Linked DNA regions of Homo sapiens: region 2 is linked to region 1. Evidence: fine-mapped expression QTL. Tissue or cell type: sun-exposed skin. Region 1 holds a variant in brackets; the other region holds the start of a gene. All regions are shown on one strand. Distances are from middle to middle.

What was found. PIP is the estimated chance that this variant, and not a neighbour inherited with it, causes the effect.
Region 2: it holds the start of MACROH2A2, and the variant in region 1 is fine-mapped to the expression of MACROH2A2 in sun-exposed skin (GTEx, PIP above 0.99). The same link has a PIP of 0.9 or more in esophagus mucosa and unexposed skin.

What each region holds. Positions count from the first base shown.
Region 1 is chr10:69,952,502-69,960,921 of GRCh38, forward strand. COL13A1 (collagen type XIII alpha 1 chain) reads left to right here. Exons shown (of 41, transcript NM_001368882.1): 39 at 381-467; 40 at 4,503-4,541; 41 at 6,198-6,643. The coding sequence ends at 6,200. It overlaps LOC107984242 (a long non-coding RNA gene), which reads right to left. Exons shown (of 4, transcript XR_007062181.1): 3 at 4,169-4,354; 4 at 2,394-2,477. Among named protein-coding and RNA genes, the nearest start is that of LINC02636, 53 kb to the right of the region's middle. RefSeq lists a silencer at 4,318-4,387. The variant G/C (reference allele first, on the strand shown) is at 3,933.
Region 2 is chr10:70,048,441-70,056,621 of GRCh38, forward strand. MACROH2A2 (macroH2A.2 histone) reads left to right here and starts at 4,406. Exons shown (of 9, transcript NM_018649.3): 1 at 4,406-4,560.

The DNA of each region.
Region 1 (8,420 bases):
ACCCCAAAGCCTTTCAAAAACAGACTCAAAGAGAAGGAAGTTGGTCCCTAGCCACTGTGTTCAGCACAGACCCACGCTGGGCTTAGTATTAGCAAAACCGGCCACCAAAATCTTCAGTCTGTGGTTCCCTGCACCTGCAGCTCTGAGCCCTCTGCCTGTCCTCCCCTCCCCCTCCCACCCACCTTAGCCAAATTCTCAGGTTCCTGGGGGGTGGGGAGGAGGTGGGTATTGACTCCAAATCCTACTGGGGAGAATATCCTAATTTAAAGCATCTCTTTTTCCCTTTTTAATTTTATTTTTCTTTTTCTGTCTTCAACCTTAACACATGAATGATCTTAAAGTTTTGATGTTTTTTTCTCGGACTAAACCATTATTTACAGGGGGAGAGGGGGAAGAAAGGCTCTAGAGGGCCTAAAGGGGATAAGGGAGACCAAGGAGCGCCTGGATTAGATGCCCCCTGCCCATTGGTATGTTTTTGTTTATCACTTGCATTGTTCTGGTTTTTGTTCTTGAGGTTTGTAAGTTGGAAACAAAGAAGGCAAATAAACTAAGATGAGAACCAAATGTCTACACGGATGCTACCAAAATCTCTCTGTTCATTTGACTGGTGAAATTCTGCCCGCTGTTGGATTTGCTTTGTAACCACAGCTGCAAGTAATTCTGGCTAAATCCCTTGCCTTTGAATCCTTTTCCTTTGAAGATACAGAGCAATCGATGTGTGGAAGTGAGGAAACCACTAGGAAAGGGATTTTCAGGGAAGGCCTCAGCTCTTAGCTCCAGGATGGCTTTGGAAGCCAGTGTAGCATTTGTGAGCCACGGATTTGCCTTCTTCGTTTCATGGCCACCTCTGTGGGCCAGTAGTTCAAGCTGTCTGAATCCTCACTTGATCAGGATGCAGGACACCAGAGTTAGCGTCTCCTCAGGGCCACTGATGCTCAAAACTGGGCAGAACAAGGCCAGATGAGGGGCTTCTAATGCACAGCCTCCCAACACTCACCAGCCATCCAGCTGAAACCTTTAAAGCTGCAGACCAGAACTGGTAGTCAGACAGACACCCCATGGGAAGCCTTCTCAAAAGAGCCAGCAATTAATGATGAGGCACTTCTGCTGGGTTTCTCAAGTGCCTTTGAATCCATTTGAAGGTTCTAAAAATTATGATGCACTAAAGTTGAAGTTTGTCTGTGTTTACACTAAGTGAGTCTGTAGAGAGAGGAGGATCAACGGAGAGGGGGCAGGTTGTATGTGTGCAAAGCTGAACTCTCCAGAGCACAAAGAGAGCACAAAAGCTGGATTTGGGAGATGGGGGATCACCTGGGATTTAGCCCCTGTTTGTAGATGCCTCAAGGGTCCTGCATCCTGGCCAGGGTAGGACTGGGCCTCTCTATTCCATGGTTGGAGCTGGCCAGCCTTGACCTGAATAATCATCGTGGTTGGTTTTGTGAACAGGGACACCGAGGTTTTAAAGGAGAGAAAGGGGAGCCGGGGTTACCAGGGCTGGACGGACTGGATGCCCCATGCCCATTGGTATGGCATTGCCCTTGCTTGCCTGCATGGCCGATTTGGGCTTCCCCATGTGTGTGATTCATACTGGGTTTCTCCCCAGCCACCCTCCACACTCCTCCTCCATCCCCCCCAGGCTCCACTTCCCACTTCTTCATTCTGTAAATGCCAAGGGTCACCCCGCCTAGGCTAGTACTCTGGGGGCTCCCAGTCATGCCACCCTCTTGCATGCAAAGTTTACTGGGATGTTTCCTGGCTTCCTGCTGCAGCTACCTCTAAAGCACAGCCACTTGATGCCAGCCAGCTCTCCCACCCTGAAGTTGGTTTTGGCTGCCTCTGATACTCATCTCCAAGCTGATTCTAGACAAAGCTGCCACCAGATACCAGCTAGGAAAGTGGATTCTCTGGACTGGTTTTCAGAACCATGACTCACTTCTTTTCCTTCAGGCAGTGAAGTTAGTTCAGAATCACTGGCTGAGCACCTAGCGAAACATGTGAATGAGATGCCTGATCAGCCCTGTATCCCCTGCTCCTCCATCACATGATTTGGGGGACAGAAGGGCATGATTACAGAGTAGACTGAGAAGCTCTAGAAGTGAGCTGGAGGAGGGGCCACCTGCCTATTCTTCCAGGTTGGATCGTGGGTCGCTGCCCAGGTGACACCATCAGAACTAGGGGATGGTCCAGGATTAGGTTTTCGGATCCTAAAGGGTTTGTCCTTCTTGCTTAAATCTCCAAAGACATTACCAGACCCTTCCTCGTCCCTTTCTTTCATGATCAGATGGCTTCTTACTGAAGAGTCTGGGAGAGACGGAAAGGTCAAGAATGTAGTTAAGGAGGAGGCAGGGAGACAGCTAAGGACCTCTCTTCCAAGCACGTCCCAGGCGAAGTGGTAGCAGTTTATTCCCGCCTGCCCAGTCCCTCTCTAGGCATGGACAGTCTAGGCCTCCACGCTGATCCTCTTACTGCAAAAGAAGCTGAAGGGAACACTTCACTCCAAGGCTCAAGGGGTTACAGCTCTCCCCAAATTTCCCCAATAGGTTTGGAGTTCAAGAGCTATTTTATCATACCAGTAATAAGAGAATTTGGGGTCTCACATCCCCGCCCTGGGGTCACACAGGAATTCTCTTTGAACAAAAGAGAAAAAGATACAAGAAATTATGCTGTGTGACCCTGAAAGGTGGTCGTAGAGCCCCTTGAAGGGCAGTAGGGACTTTTTAGGAGGAGCATAGGCAACAAAAGGAGAGTGCAGAGCAAGCAGGCGGGTAGCATGCTTCCTGTCCCTGCTGGTCCTGCCAAACCCTGCGCTTGCAGACTGCACAGCCACCTTTCTCAACCAGGACTTCCACCATCCACGCACCAATGGGAATGCCGCTCTGGCCCGCAGGGGCTCCCTTGAGCACTGGCCAGGTCTTCCCTCAGCCACAATCCCCTCCCACAATCTGGGCACCTTTAGTTCTGCCAGCAGCTGCCTTGGCCTCTCTGTTCCTCACCATACATTACTTTTCATTCTCTGCCTGCCCTGCCCTCCATATCCCCCTGCCACCATCCACACACCAATGGGAATGCCGCTCTGGCCCACAGAGGCTCCTCTCCCTCCCGGCATCCATGTGACGTGTGTCATACCGCACCGTGGCAGGCTGGGGAAGGGGCACAGGGTCACCCTGAAACTGTGGAATGCACCTCCTCCCCCTGCAATCCCCTCCCCAACCCAGAGGGGAAAATGAAGGTCACCCTGATTTGACTCTCCATGTAAAATGGCATTTTCTTCCATAACATCCCATATCAATGTGTCAATTTTCTATTAATTTTACTGGGGAAGTGTCTTCCCCTTGTTTCTCACTCTGCCTCCTCCTCTGTGTTATTATGGGCTTGAGGGGCAGGGGTAGCTATTGCTCATGACTTTTACTACAAGATAACCAGACTTCCTAAGCCCTCCATATTGGGACCAATTTCTGCTGAATGCCAGGTGATGAGAGGTTTCAGCCCCTGGCGTGGGTGGATGACGTCAGACCAGGGCAGCAGAGGACTCTCATTCCACAAGCTCCCTCAGGACTGAGCACTTGCTCCGGGTCTCCTGAAGCCCCATGTCCATCTCCTTGTCTGCCCTGCCAGTCTAGCAGACTTGGGCTGAGAACCAGACCTTTGCCCTTGGCCCAGCCTCGCCTTCCCCACTGGGTCTCTAGATTTCTAGATTCCCCATAGGGTATGCCAGCAAGGAGAGGATATGAGGGCCCAAGAAAACTCAGGAAAGTTTCTATCACCAAGGGCAGAACACGAACATCTTGAGGCTAAAGGAGCTGCATGGTTGCTACCAACAAAGGAGACCGACGGTGTGCAGTTGATTCCCATGTTTTTACTGCACTTCACCCCCAAATTCCCAGCAAGGTCTAAGGCTTCGCCAGGAACCCTTGTCTTCTTGCCAAAGGCAT[G/C]TCAGGGCCATCCTGCAATACTCATGAGGTTGCCTGTCCCTTCATGCCCCTCACCCCACCCCAGGATTAATCATCAAAGAAGGACTGTCTACATGTCCTCCTCCCTGTGCTTAGGAAGAGAGACAAATAAGAGAATGAGAAGGCTGGGAAGGCCCTTAGCGGTCACATCAAGCAACTGTCCTTGCCAAGGTTTTATGGAGGAGGAAACTGAGGCCGCCTTGTGCTGAGTGGCTTACCCGTGAGCAGCCGGCACTCCATAGGGCCACAGCAGAGACTGTTTCTTCGTGGCACGGAAGGACATCTCTGCTTGCTGGTCCCACGGGCTAGGACAGCCCCTATTGACGTTGCACTATAGCTGCATGTGACCTTTAACCAATGGTAAAATAGCCGGATTTGTTTCCACCTCCTTCTGAGGTTCTGACCTGTAGTAGAGAAAAGAAATAGACAAGCGTGGGTGGGCCACATCCTGATCAGCTGCCAAAATGCGTGTGGCCCTTGTTACCCCTGTCCTGCCCACTTGGTGGACCATTGCAGGAAGTCTGAGCCCTCTGCCTTCCTTTCTCCTTGCAGGGCGAAGATGGCTTACCAGTCCAAGGCTGCTGGAACAAGGTAAGGCTTCCCATTGGTGTGCACTGGGGCTCCGTTCTCAGCAGTGCCATAAAGCTTCCACAATTTCCATTCTGCCTTGCTACAGATGAGGCAGCAAGACATAGGTCAAATAGTCACTGTCTCAAAGGCAGGGTGCCCATTAAACATCCCATACACTGCATGCTGTTAACAAACATTTTAAAATGCTTCTTAGAACATCAGTAAACCCTAGGCGGAATGTCCATGCAGCCACACAGGTGACATCTTTATGCTTTGTGTGTTCAATGTACATAGTGTCTTTCCCCCAAGGAACTTCCCCAAGGAGTTCCAGATCACACTCATAGAGTTCCTCTAAGGTCGTTTATGCCACGTGATGACATGTCTTAGACGTAGGACATCTCAGTTGCTTTCACTCTGAACTCACATGCTACTGTGCCTCCCCTAGGGGCTGTGCTCCTCACCACTCTACCACTCCCCTTGCATTTAAGCTGGCAGAGCTTCATGCCACCACACATGTGACCTGCAGCCAAATCTCTCCTGGGCTCCCAGAGTTCCTACCAACAATGAGTTTTCATTGATTCACACTGGCCTTGGCATTTGCCATTGTTAGAGCAGTCTGACATCATAGGACTGTGCCCTTGCATGTGATCGCCCCATTCAACCATGGCTCCCCAGAGCACAGGGCTGCCCAGGCAGACAGAGGCCATCTGCTTGCTAACTAATCCAGAAGACCCGCCTTGGTCCCCAGCAATGGTGGCAGCCACTATGCTGCCCCATACCGTCTCCCTCCACCTTGCCTGTCACTCCAAGTCTTCTCACCAACCCCCCACCACCATTGTCTCAAGGTTCATCCTCATAAAGGGACCGGAGACTCCAACATGTTCAAGAATCTGTGCTCAACGAATCCAGTCCTGTTCCAGTGGCAGCAGAGTCACACTTACAATGAGATGAACAAGCTCCCCTGTACTAAGATGCCAGAATCTCACTAGTGCACTGGGTTGGGTAAAAGTGGTGAAACCACCAAGACCCCAGGCCAACGCTGACCACCTACCTGCCTGGATACCTAAAGCACCCCCTAACCCAAGAAGGAAAAGCTCAACACTCAAGAGAGATGCCTCCCCAGAATCCATCCCTGGAGGCTGGCCTCGTCCTCCTGCCAAGCTCCACTTAGACCTAGTTAAAGCGCCACAAAAGCAGGTCAGAGGTGTCATAAGACCTCTGAACCCTTGACCCCTAAAAAAATTTCCTCTTTAAAGTTGCTGCCAATGGTTAGGAGACAGAAATGGTTGTGCTTAGCAGGGGAAGAACAGCCACTACCAAGAGCTGCAATGTCTTGGAGAAGCAACCAGAGAGCTTCAAGACTACTCATTCACACCTTAAGTCCAATCTGGGACAATGCAGTGGTTACAACAATCAGGCCTCCAAAGGCAGCAGAGAAAGAGAGTGCCCTCTAGTGACCACAAAGGGGATTCACAGAGAGGTGAACTTGGTTTCCTCCCTTCAGGGAGCTAAGGTCGCCACCAGTTTCTTTCACCTAGGGGCTCAGGGTTCCCACAGTTCTCCTGTCCAGAACTCCCATCCAACCCAGGACAAGATTTACCTCCCTTCCTACAAAGGAAATAAACCTCTGCAGACCCACTGAAACTAACAGAACATTGTTTTGTTTTTGTTTTGCAGTGATGCCTCTAACCTTGGATTGGCCTGTGTGTGTGTTTGTACATAGAATATTTATTTTTATACAGTTTTCACTTTTTGAAAATGCCAGAAGTATGATGCATCTTACAGATTATTAAAAAAGAAAGAAAAACCTGCATATTTTGTACAGAAAATATCAACCTCTTCCCTTTTGTTTACAAGATGTTTTGTATAAGCCTATGTCTCTAATACATTTTTTGTTTGGTCGTAATGTCTGCATGATATTTGTGCACATTTATTAAGTATCGAAGCTTAATAAATTATTGTGTCCTGGTGCCAAAGGGGGCCAGCCAGAACTGAGGTGCTGGCTAGCTCATGTGTGAATTCACATAAATGTAGAGGTCCATGATATTTGCTAAGCTAGGTGTGTCTAAGAGTATTTTAAACCCTTATGGATTTTCATTATTAAAGGAAATGAAACATGGCAATTCATGATCCTGATTAATCATTATATTAAATACATTCTCTCCTGTGAAAGCAGGAATTCCCAGAAGTAGGGGTCCTCAGAAGTGTGGAGTAAGGTTTTGAAATGTGAGGTTCAACAAAGGGAGGGAAGGGAACTTTATCGAGCAATGTATGTTGTTACAGATCCCAAGTTTATCACAGTGCTTGCTGTGTGAGCATTTAGGTTCAGTTGTGCTAAGGGCACCCAGGGTTTCAAAGGAGCCATTTGCTCTTGCTGTTGGGTTATGGTAGGTTTTTGCTTGTTTGTTTTGCTTTGTTTTGTTTTGAGCTACAGTCCCTAGTACCAGCTATTGCTAATCACAGCTGTTGACTTGATATGAGTTTGTGGGTTCACTCACAACTAGCAGTTGAAGGAGCTTTGCCTCATCTGCTGTTCCACTCCAGCAAAGAGCATTCAGAAACATGCCTAGATCTGGGCTTGGGCTGGGCCAATCTGAAGTTGTTTTTATTTTTTTAAGAAATAATGTTGTATTGCTTTCCATATTTAGTGCATTGCTTAGAAAAGGTCTCAGGAAACCGGTTTTAATGACCAGTTAAGTCTTACCTGTGGTGTAGCATACAGGTTTATCGTTAGCTGTTTGACAACATAAATTCATGCTTCTAAAAGCTTGAAAACAACAAATTACTCCAGTACTTTACATACATCCCCATCTGGTTTACATTTTGCATTTTCTTTACACATCCTTTCTTCCTAGACAACGCAAAGGGAAATTTAACTTCAGACTCTGTCCACATGCTGTCACACAAAACTCTAAATTAGTGGGCTTCACAGTCATTAGACCCCTGCCATGTGTGGGGATGAGGTCACACTCACAAGCGCTCATGGTAATGAAATCACACGCAGCTCAGACCCAAAACGTCTATACCAACATTCTTACTCTAAATGTCACTAGCTTAGCTTAGAACTTGGACAACTTCCTCTTCTAAGTCTTGGGTTCCTCATTTGAAAAGTGAAGCAAGTCTGGGCAACATAATGAGACGCTCATCTCTACAAAAACATTTTTCAAAATTTAGCTGAGTGTGGTGACACTCGCCTGTAGTCCCAGCTACTCCGGAGGCTGAGGTGGGAAGATTGCTTGAGCCCAGGAGTTTCAGGCTGCAGTGAGCTATGATCGCACCGCTGCACTCCAGCCTGGGCAACAGAGTGAGACCCTGCCTTAAAAGAAAAAAAAGGAAAAAAAAAAAAAAAAGGAAGGAAAGAAAAAAGAAAAGTGAAGCCATGCAGTAGTGAACAAGAGTTGATCTCTGTGGACACAAAGAGGGTTCATCTGAACCCAGGGATGTTTCTTGCCCTGGGCCGGATTCTCATGGCCCTGTAGCCCAGGGACAACTTCTCCAGCAGCCACGGAGTACTTTTAGAGGCCACAAAAATATCTTAATTTTTCACCTTTTTAAATTTAGAAAAAAAAAATGAATATATAACAATGAATCCAGCCAGGATTGTTTTTGTCTTTCTACCAGCACAATTGTAAAATATAATTTTTTGTATTTTTTTAATGGAGGAAGGCAAAACTGCCCAGGGCCCCCAAAAGTCATAACGCAGCCCAGCCCACATCCTCTGCCCCTTAGAATTCACAGTCACCCTAGCTGCGGGTGTCCCCACCTCCAGGCCACACTCCTCCCCTCCCAGGCGAGGGCCCAGGCAATCAGGGTGTGACCCCGTTCTGACCCCCTCCCCTTCAGGCTCTGGCCAGGGCAATCACAGCTCACTGATGATCTCAGGATAGAGTAGAACATTCA
Region 2 (8,181 bases), 96 kb after region 1:
GCACAGATCTGCCAACACAGATGCTAAAGTCCAAACTCTCTGGATACTTGCTGCCACTTCTCATCACAATTGTCACAAAGAACTCTGCCTGGAGGTAACAGGATGATCTCCCAGAAAGCTCCGTAACCGATCAGAGCAAGTTACCAACTGGCACACTCCCCTTAGCTCTGGGCTCTGTTTCCATTAAACGTAATGATACCACGTGCCTTATTTTCCTAACCACAACTTTGCATAATTGGGACTGACAGTGTATTTGTCTTAAAAAGCTGAAACACTTCATTTTCTTTTACAATATAGTTCATCAGTTAAACGCTAAACATTCGGTAGATTTCTTTAAAATCCAAACCAGCCCTAACTCTGAGCACACTGGAATCTCAGTCATTACTCATCTTACAAGGTATACACATGTAACATATGCATCAAATATTTGATTCATATATAAATGTACATATCTAAATATGCATCTATACACACACATACCTACTCATGCAAATCCCCTTTCCCAGAACCAAAGGGTCAAGACTTAGTATCAAAAAAGACATAGTTTGTCACTGTTTTTAAGAACCAGGACTAGTAAAATGTTTCTTTTGCTAGGAGACCAAGACATTCATTTTAGCCAGAAATTATAAGCATAGTCTTTGTTGGCCTAATGATTGCCTGCGTGTCCTTTTTTTTTTAAGGATATTATTCCCCCTCCACACATGATTAAGATCCTAAAGTCATCAGTCGTGATCAAGGAAATAAAAGTTTAACACCAATCATGTTCACTATTCAAAATATAAAAACAGGAAAGACTTTGTAAGTTTCCAGCTTAAACAAAAATTTATGTGTCAAATTGTCCAGTATTTTCCTAGCTACAACGTACTTTTGGACGCTGTGTTTATTCTTTCACAGGGTGGGATACTGTTAGCCTGGTGCTTTGTCTGCATTCATAACCTCAAGCTCCCACATTGTTATTTAGAGTTATACCAGTTGGTGTCTTGATAAAATTAATACAGTGTCTAGAGTTCCTAACTTACATCCAAAGAAGTGCATAAACCAATGATTTCCATCTGTTTCTATGACACTCCCAGGGAATCTCAGGTTACTTCAAAGGAGATCAGAAATTCCCAAATAAAATTAATTTAGATCTACAAATCTTACGCATATACTTACATATGCCAGATATAAATATATACCTACATGCACATAGGTAAATTCTGGAAGATGCAAAGTCAGGAAATTACTAAGGTAATTGCATATTAAGATCCTAGGAGGGTAAAATGATCACAAATTATAATATGTATCGTAAACTGATTAGAACTAATCATGAAAAATAAAAGTCCACTCAGTTTACACAAAATCACAAATTTGGATCAAGAAAAAGGGTTTGGGGGGTAAATCAATGAAGCTATTTTTGAAGTAGATGATTTTGTGGATGAATTACTAGCAACCCAATAGGATACAAATCTGGTTGGATGACTGATTCATTTGATTCTTTTTTTTTTTTCATCTCTAAATTATGCTACATGCCTCTCTCTAAATGGAGAAGTGCTTCATCCTGCATCTCAATAAAATTATTAAAGACATGTTTGCTGTAATGGAGTCAACTCACAATCAATACCTGTATTCATAATATTATGCACACATACAGGTCAAGGGTTAAGAAAATGTTTTCAGTGCAACTGTAATCAACCAACCCTCCTGTAATTAGGCTGTTTGCTGACTCCTTAGGGACATTTATTGGGAGGGGCCCAAGGGCCCCTCTTAGACTCAGATCATGTGACTGAGTGCAAAATTCCTTTGCTTAAAACAAATGCACTTCTCCACCTTCAGATTAAGGCAGTGATTAAGAGCATGGATCTGCCACTTCCTAACTCTATAACTGTGGGAAAGTTTCTCATCCACTCCCTGCCTCAGTCTGTAAAAAGGAGAAAATAGTGCTTGCCCCATACAAGTGTTGAAAGGATTAAATAAGTTAGGATAAAGTGCTTAGTACAGTGCACATAGTAAACATTCAATAAGTGTAAGCTCTTATCATTCTTTATTATTCAACTTGTCAGAGGTTCCCCGAGCTAGAGACCACTGCGGAACTCTAGATTACTTATCAACTTATGATCATGTTGACTTTTTAAAATGTATTTTAATTTTATATAATATTATATGATACTATCTCAGTGTTAAATTTTTATGTGTTAAATGTTCGGTATTAAACACACATAATTCAACTAGATCTGCATATTAAGTGGCATATTTGTCCCCTATACATCCTGAAAAGTTTGGAATTGGCGGAAACTGCATTGACTGGGTATCTGGACATGCATTGGAGGATCTCCCACTAATGTCCTGCGAGGCCATGGCTGAGTCATTTCACCCTTCCAAATACCAGATTTCTTCCTATAGCAAAGGTTTCCACTAGGTGAACTCTAAGAACCCTTTTATCCTAAGAATCAGAGTATTTTGAAGCTGACCTCTTCCTTGATTTTCTGAGTTGTGACAGCATCATCTGTCTGAAGAAACCAACCAGTATGAAATGGGAGAATCCTAACCAGTAAATTTACTAGATCCAGCCTCTCTCAGGATAGCACATAACAAAATGCTAGAATGAACTGTTATATAAAATTCACATAAAAATGACCACATATGCCACTTTTATTGGGAAATTACAAGGAGAATGTGAATCTAATATCTACTGATGAATTATTCAACTATATTTCAGTCAGCCTGGCTGACTGGATGACAGAGTATGAGTATTTTTCAAGCACTCATAGAAAACTCCTGAACTCTCTTGAATGTTGGCTTGATGGTTATTTCTGGTGAAGAATGGACACCTGAAGGTATAAGAAGAGAGACCCTTTCTTTAGGAATGGGAAAGGACATCATTATGGGATGCCCCAGGGGATCATTTGAAACCCTTTAAATATACATCTTGGGGAAAGAAGACTTTATCCTGACTGGATATCTGACCTGGAAAATACCTTCCAAGACAAAGAACAGTGAGGTCATACACAGAGGGCGTGAAAGGCTTAGGAAAAGAGTAAAGGAAGCCCCAAGAAACAGAGACTGTTGAGTCCAGGGGAGTTTGAGAAGCCATAGGAGACTGAAATAGAGGCTTATGCATATGTTGATGATATATGCGTGATTTGGAGGAAGTCAGAGAGAAACATGGCTGATTTCTCAGCAAATACACTTTAAAATGCACATGTTCTAAACCTAACCCGCTATCTATAAACGCCAGCAATAGCCATGATTAACTAACTAGTAGAGACGCAGAGGGTGGTAGGCATGAGTTCTTCCCACTCAGGCACTGGGAGGCTTTCAGTCACTCCAAAGTCCCCACTGCCTAAATAGTTACAAGTTTGTAGTAGCAAATATACACAATATTACCAAATGTAACAGCTTTAAAAATCAGCCATTTGGCCAAGGCTGGAGAATTCTGTTTGCACCGGTTTCTCTTTTTGGAAGGGATCAAAATGTTGCCTCTCACAGTCCTTTGACTGTAGGAGAAATCAGAGGAAACCTGGATGGTCCACAGCAAGTTAGTATTTCCCACTGAAATAAACACATTCTTTTGACTCCCCTCCAGCCATGGAGCCCTGGCCAACAACTCACAATACAAAGCCGAGACTGGCTTCCACTAGGAACACAGCAACTGCTAATCCCCATTATCACACCCGACAGTGTCCACCACACCCCCATAAAGATGCATTTTCTAGTAACTAATAAAAACTGGTCCTGAAGACAATAGCCTCGCGCTCATCTAAATACCCGTTGGGATATTGCAAATTAACACCTTGTAAAGCAACCCAATTAAAAATTATGCCCATACACACAGTCTCACCCACCAAAACATACATCTGCCTCTCCAAATATTATGCAACGCTGGATTCTAAATCGGTCTTAATTTCTAAAAAGCCTACAGGCACGGATATAAATTCTCAGCTCTCGTGGCTGTGGCCGCCCTATGCACTCTTCCCAGTGGTGGACACAAACGTTAATGTACTTGTTATTATTTAAGGACACAAAAATATAGAAGGTGGCATTTTTCGCTTTCCCCTTCGAAGACTCTCCCCAGAGCTGCCAGATGAACGCCCACGCCACCTTCTCCCACCAAAGGTGGATCCAGCTAACAGGAGACTGGATCGCGACCATAGCGCGTTTGTGCCCAGTTCTGGGGAAAGCCTCATGTTAGCGAGTGGCCCTCGGCTCGTCTCGCAGATCGGCCAAGTACGCGGAGGCCGCGCGGTTTCACCATTAATACTCCTGAAGGACAATAGCTCATCAAGCCCCACCGAAAGCCCCGGACCCGTCGCGGAGCCTGGGCTGGCGGGGGATGAGGCTGAGCAACTCCTCCTAGAGGTGGTTATGTGGAGAAGGAGCAATCCCTTCTCCCTCCTCCTCCTCCCCCCGCTACTATCCGCGGCCCAGAGAACTGCCGCTTGCCGCCATTGACACGCACAGATAGAACCCAAAGAAAGGCAAAGAGTCCTGCCCGGCACCGGCGCCGCGTGGGCCAAACCTGCGCCCGTGGAGGGGCGCGCAGAGGGCACCGGGCGCCGGGAGCAGGCGGCGCAGCACCAGGTGAGCCCGCCATGGCGATGGCATTATTGTTTAGGGTGCTCCGGGGTCTGGAAACAAAACGCGCCGCCGGGGCAGTGCAGGGGCCGGAGAGAACCACCTCTGCCTCTCCCCCGAGCCCCTGCGGGCGCACCCTCGATAGCCGACCCACCCTCTGCAAAAACAAATTCTTAAATCCAGCTGCCCAACTTGCTTCCTTGGGCGATAAAGGGGGGGCTGCTAAAGAAGTGGTCAAATTCCTGCGGCCAGCGAGGGGCCGGGGGCGTCGAGGGTACTGAGAGGGGAAGGAGGAGGGATGCGAGGTTCAGCAGCGGGCCCCAGGCGAGGCTGGACCCGGAGGAAGCGGAGGTCTCCTGGGAATGCGGAGTTTCGGGCGCAGGAGCGGGAGGACGGAGGCGCCCGGCCGCCGATGGGCACGGGGCGATGGGTGGGGGGCTGCGCAGGGCCCGAGGGAGCCCGGGGAGGGCCGCTCGGGGGCCTCTGAAGGTGCCCGGGCAGGGCGCCGGCGGCTCCAGGCTGACAATGGAGGGGGCGCGGAGCAGCCGGGCGGAGGTTAGGGACCCGAGTCCGGGGGCGGGCCGCGCCGGGGAAGGTCAGGTCGGGGACGCCGGGTGGCGGGGCGAGGGCTGGGGGTTGCTGCGCGGACACCCGGGCGCCGCGGGCGGGCGTGCGCCCCGGGGCCGGCGCGGAAGAGGGCGCGAGGCCGGGCACTCCCCTTCGGTTCCCTTTCCGGGGCGCCCGGTGCCGACGCGCGCTGCGCTTTCACCGGGAAATGGCGGCCCGGCCGTGGCTCGCCTGGGCAGTCTGGCTCCCGCTTTGCGCGGGAAAAAATAATAATAATAAAAATATCGAAAAAGGGAATAAAAGTAAACTGGCTGCGGCGCAGGAAAGGGCTCTGCCGGGCGCCGGACGCCGTGCGTATCGCTCGCGGGGCGCGGCGGTTGGGGACCAGCCCTGCCTCCCCCGGCTCCCAGCCTCCAGCCCCGGCGCACCTCAGCCCCAGCCCGGCCAGCCCCCCGGATCGCCCGTGGGTGTCCTCCCCCGCCTTTCCTTGGGGGGGCGCCCTCAGTTCTTGCCCTCTTTGTTCCTTACAACAATGGCCAAAGGGGCATTGGTTCCCCAAGGGCCAAACGAGCTTCCTCCAGGAGTTTCCCGTCGCGTGCAGTGGACCACCGTGGGCCTGACTGAGGCCTGGTCCTTGCCAGGGTTTTTTGGCAACGGCCCTGGATGAGTGAAGGGATGAAAGGCGCGAGAAGAAATGGGCTGAGAAACCAAAGTGCGGGGCCCTGAGTGTTTGAGGGGACGCGATGGGAACCGTGGCTCCGCTGCCCTGATTTTAAGGGCAGTTACCCTGTCACAGCCACGCTGGAACTGAGGTGTCCTTCCAGCTTCTGTCCACCTCAGAGGAATTCAAAACAAGGGCCCAGTTCTAAGCCCCACAGACCCCAGGATCCCCTAGGGGCCATTAGTCCACCGCGGCAAATGGTTTCCTCACTTTGCTCATTTGTGTTTGTTTTGAAATCCAATTGTCACCTCACTGGGCTGCACAGTTGCTACTGAAACGGTTCAATAGGTGAGAGAAAAAGAAAACATTATTAAGAGCGAGAACGTGTCTTCGTGTGTGTTGTTTTGAACCACAAACTAAGCTACACATAATTCTCAATCCGTTTTAACACACTTTTTATTTTCAAACTAAATGTTAAGAGCTCCAAGATTTGGAAACATACTGGTGATTTTTAGAATTGTTTTAGCCTAAAATTACATATAAATAAATAGAGGCACTGCCCGGCGGAAAAGTTTATCTTGAGTCGCATAATTCACATCTTCATAACCCCTCTTTCCTGTAGCCAAATTTCCTTTTAAAACATGCCCAGTTCTCCTCTTCTCTGGTTTTTCCTATCCTACCACAGTTACACCTCACCTGGATCCATTAATTGTCAGACTTTACACATTATTAGTGGTTTCCTCTATATCAAAACTGCGTAAAAGAATTTACCTCCTTGAATCCGGAGTGTCCCTGTGATTCTGACCCTACTCCCTCACCATTCCATCTTCTGTCTGGTTCCCAGGATTTTTAAAGCGCCTCTGGTCTGCCATTTCCCAGTGGGTGGGACACCCTGCTAGCTATTGTCTGAGACAACCACATCTGTTTTCACTGCCTCCTGCCAGCAGAACAGGAGGTGAGTCCTGTCTTAGGCAACTTTAAATGAAAGGTATCTGTAACTTGTTACCGGGGAGGGATGTGCAAAAATTCAGCCAACTTTCTTAAGAATGTTTTTCAACCTTAAGAAATAACCTCCAAGTTAGATGCAGTCTTGGTAAATGGAAAGTATATTGCACAGAGATTAACAAAGAACTTGTGGTTAGAGATCATTCAACAAACACTTATTGAGCACCAAGTCTTTTGTTGTTTGTTTTGTTGTTGTTTTGAGATGGGGGTCTCGCTATATTGCTCAGACTGGTCTCGAAATCCTGGGTTCAAGGGGTCCTCCCATCTCAGCCTCCTGAGTATACACCAATTCTTAAACACCTCTAGATAGGGAAAGAAATGAAATATAAGGAAGTCATTGGGCCCTTCTCTCATAAAGCTTACAACCCCAAGCCTAGGAGATAAAATATACATGCAGGTAAAACAAGGTAAAAAGTGATTTTGGCAAGCTAGTGGGAAAACAGGTACTTTCATATACTGCTGACTGGTGTGTAAATTGATATAACCAATTGGAAGAGCAGTTTGGCACTATAAAATTAATAATGCACACATTCTGTGACTCACCATTCCATTTCTCAGTATGTCACCCAAAGAAGCAGGCATCCGTGAGCTCAGCATGTATAAGGATGTTCATTGCAATTTTGGTCATTCTGAAGTAGAAAACAGCCTAACAGCCATCAACAGGGAATGGCTAAATAAACTCTGGTGCATCTGTCTTCTGGAATATTAGGCAGCAGTTCAAAAGAATGAAGCAGATCTATACATACTGAGACAGAAAAAGATCACCAAGATGTACTATTAATGAAAAAAGCAAATTGCAGAACAGTACATACTATATGGTACTATTGATATTAAAACGATATAAAATTATACATCTCTATAAGTAAAAATTCATACAAAATGGACAGAAAAAGTATAGAAGATGCCCACTAAGAGAGACAAGAACTAGAGGAATTGTCAAGAAGGGCTTTAGCCATATCATTATTGATACCCATCCATAACCTTGTTACAATATTTGAAGTTCTGTAATTTGTTTTTTTTGTTTGTTTTGTTTTGTTTTGTTGAGATGGAGTATCTCTTGTCCAGGCTGGAGTGCATTGGCACAATCTCAGCTCACTGCAACCTCCATCTCCTAGGCTCAAGTGATCCTCCTGCCTCAGCCTCCCTAGTAGCTGGGACTACAAGCTTGTGCCTCCCAAAGTGCTGGGATTACAGGCGTGTGCCACCATGCCCGGCCAAGTTCTGTAATTTGAATTAATGTATGTCTTGCTTGGATAACTAAATACAAGTAATAATTTTAAAGTGATTGATAATACATAATGATAATACATAATTAATACATAACGATATACACAAAAAATTTACTACAGTAGTTTGTAAAGGGAGAAGAGAGTTTTGGACTTGAAGGGAGGGTG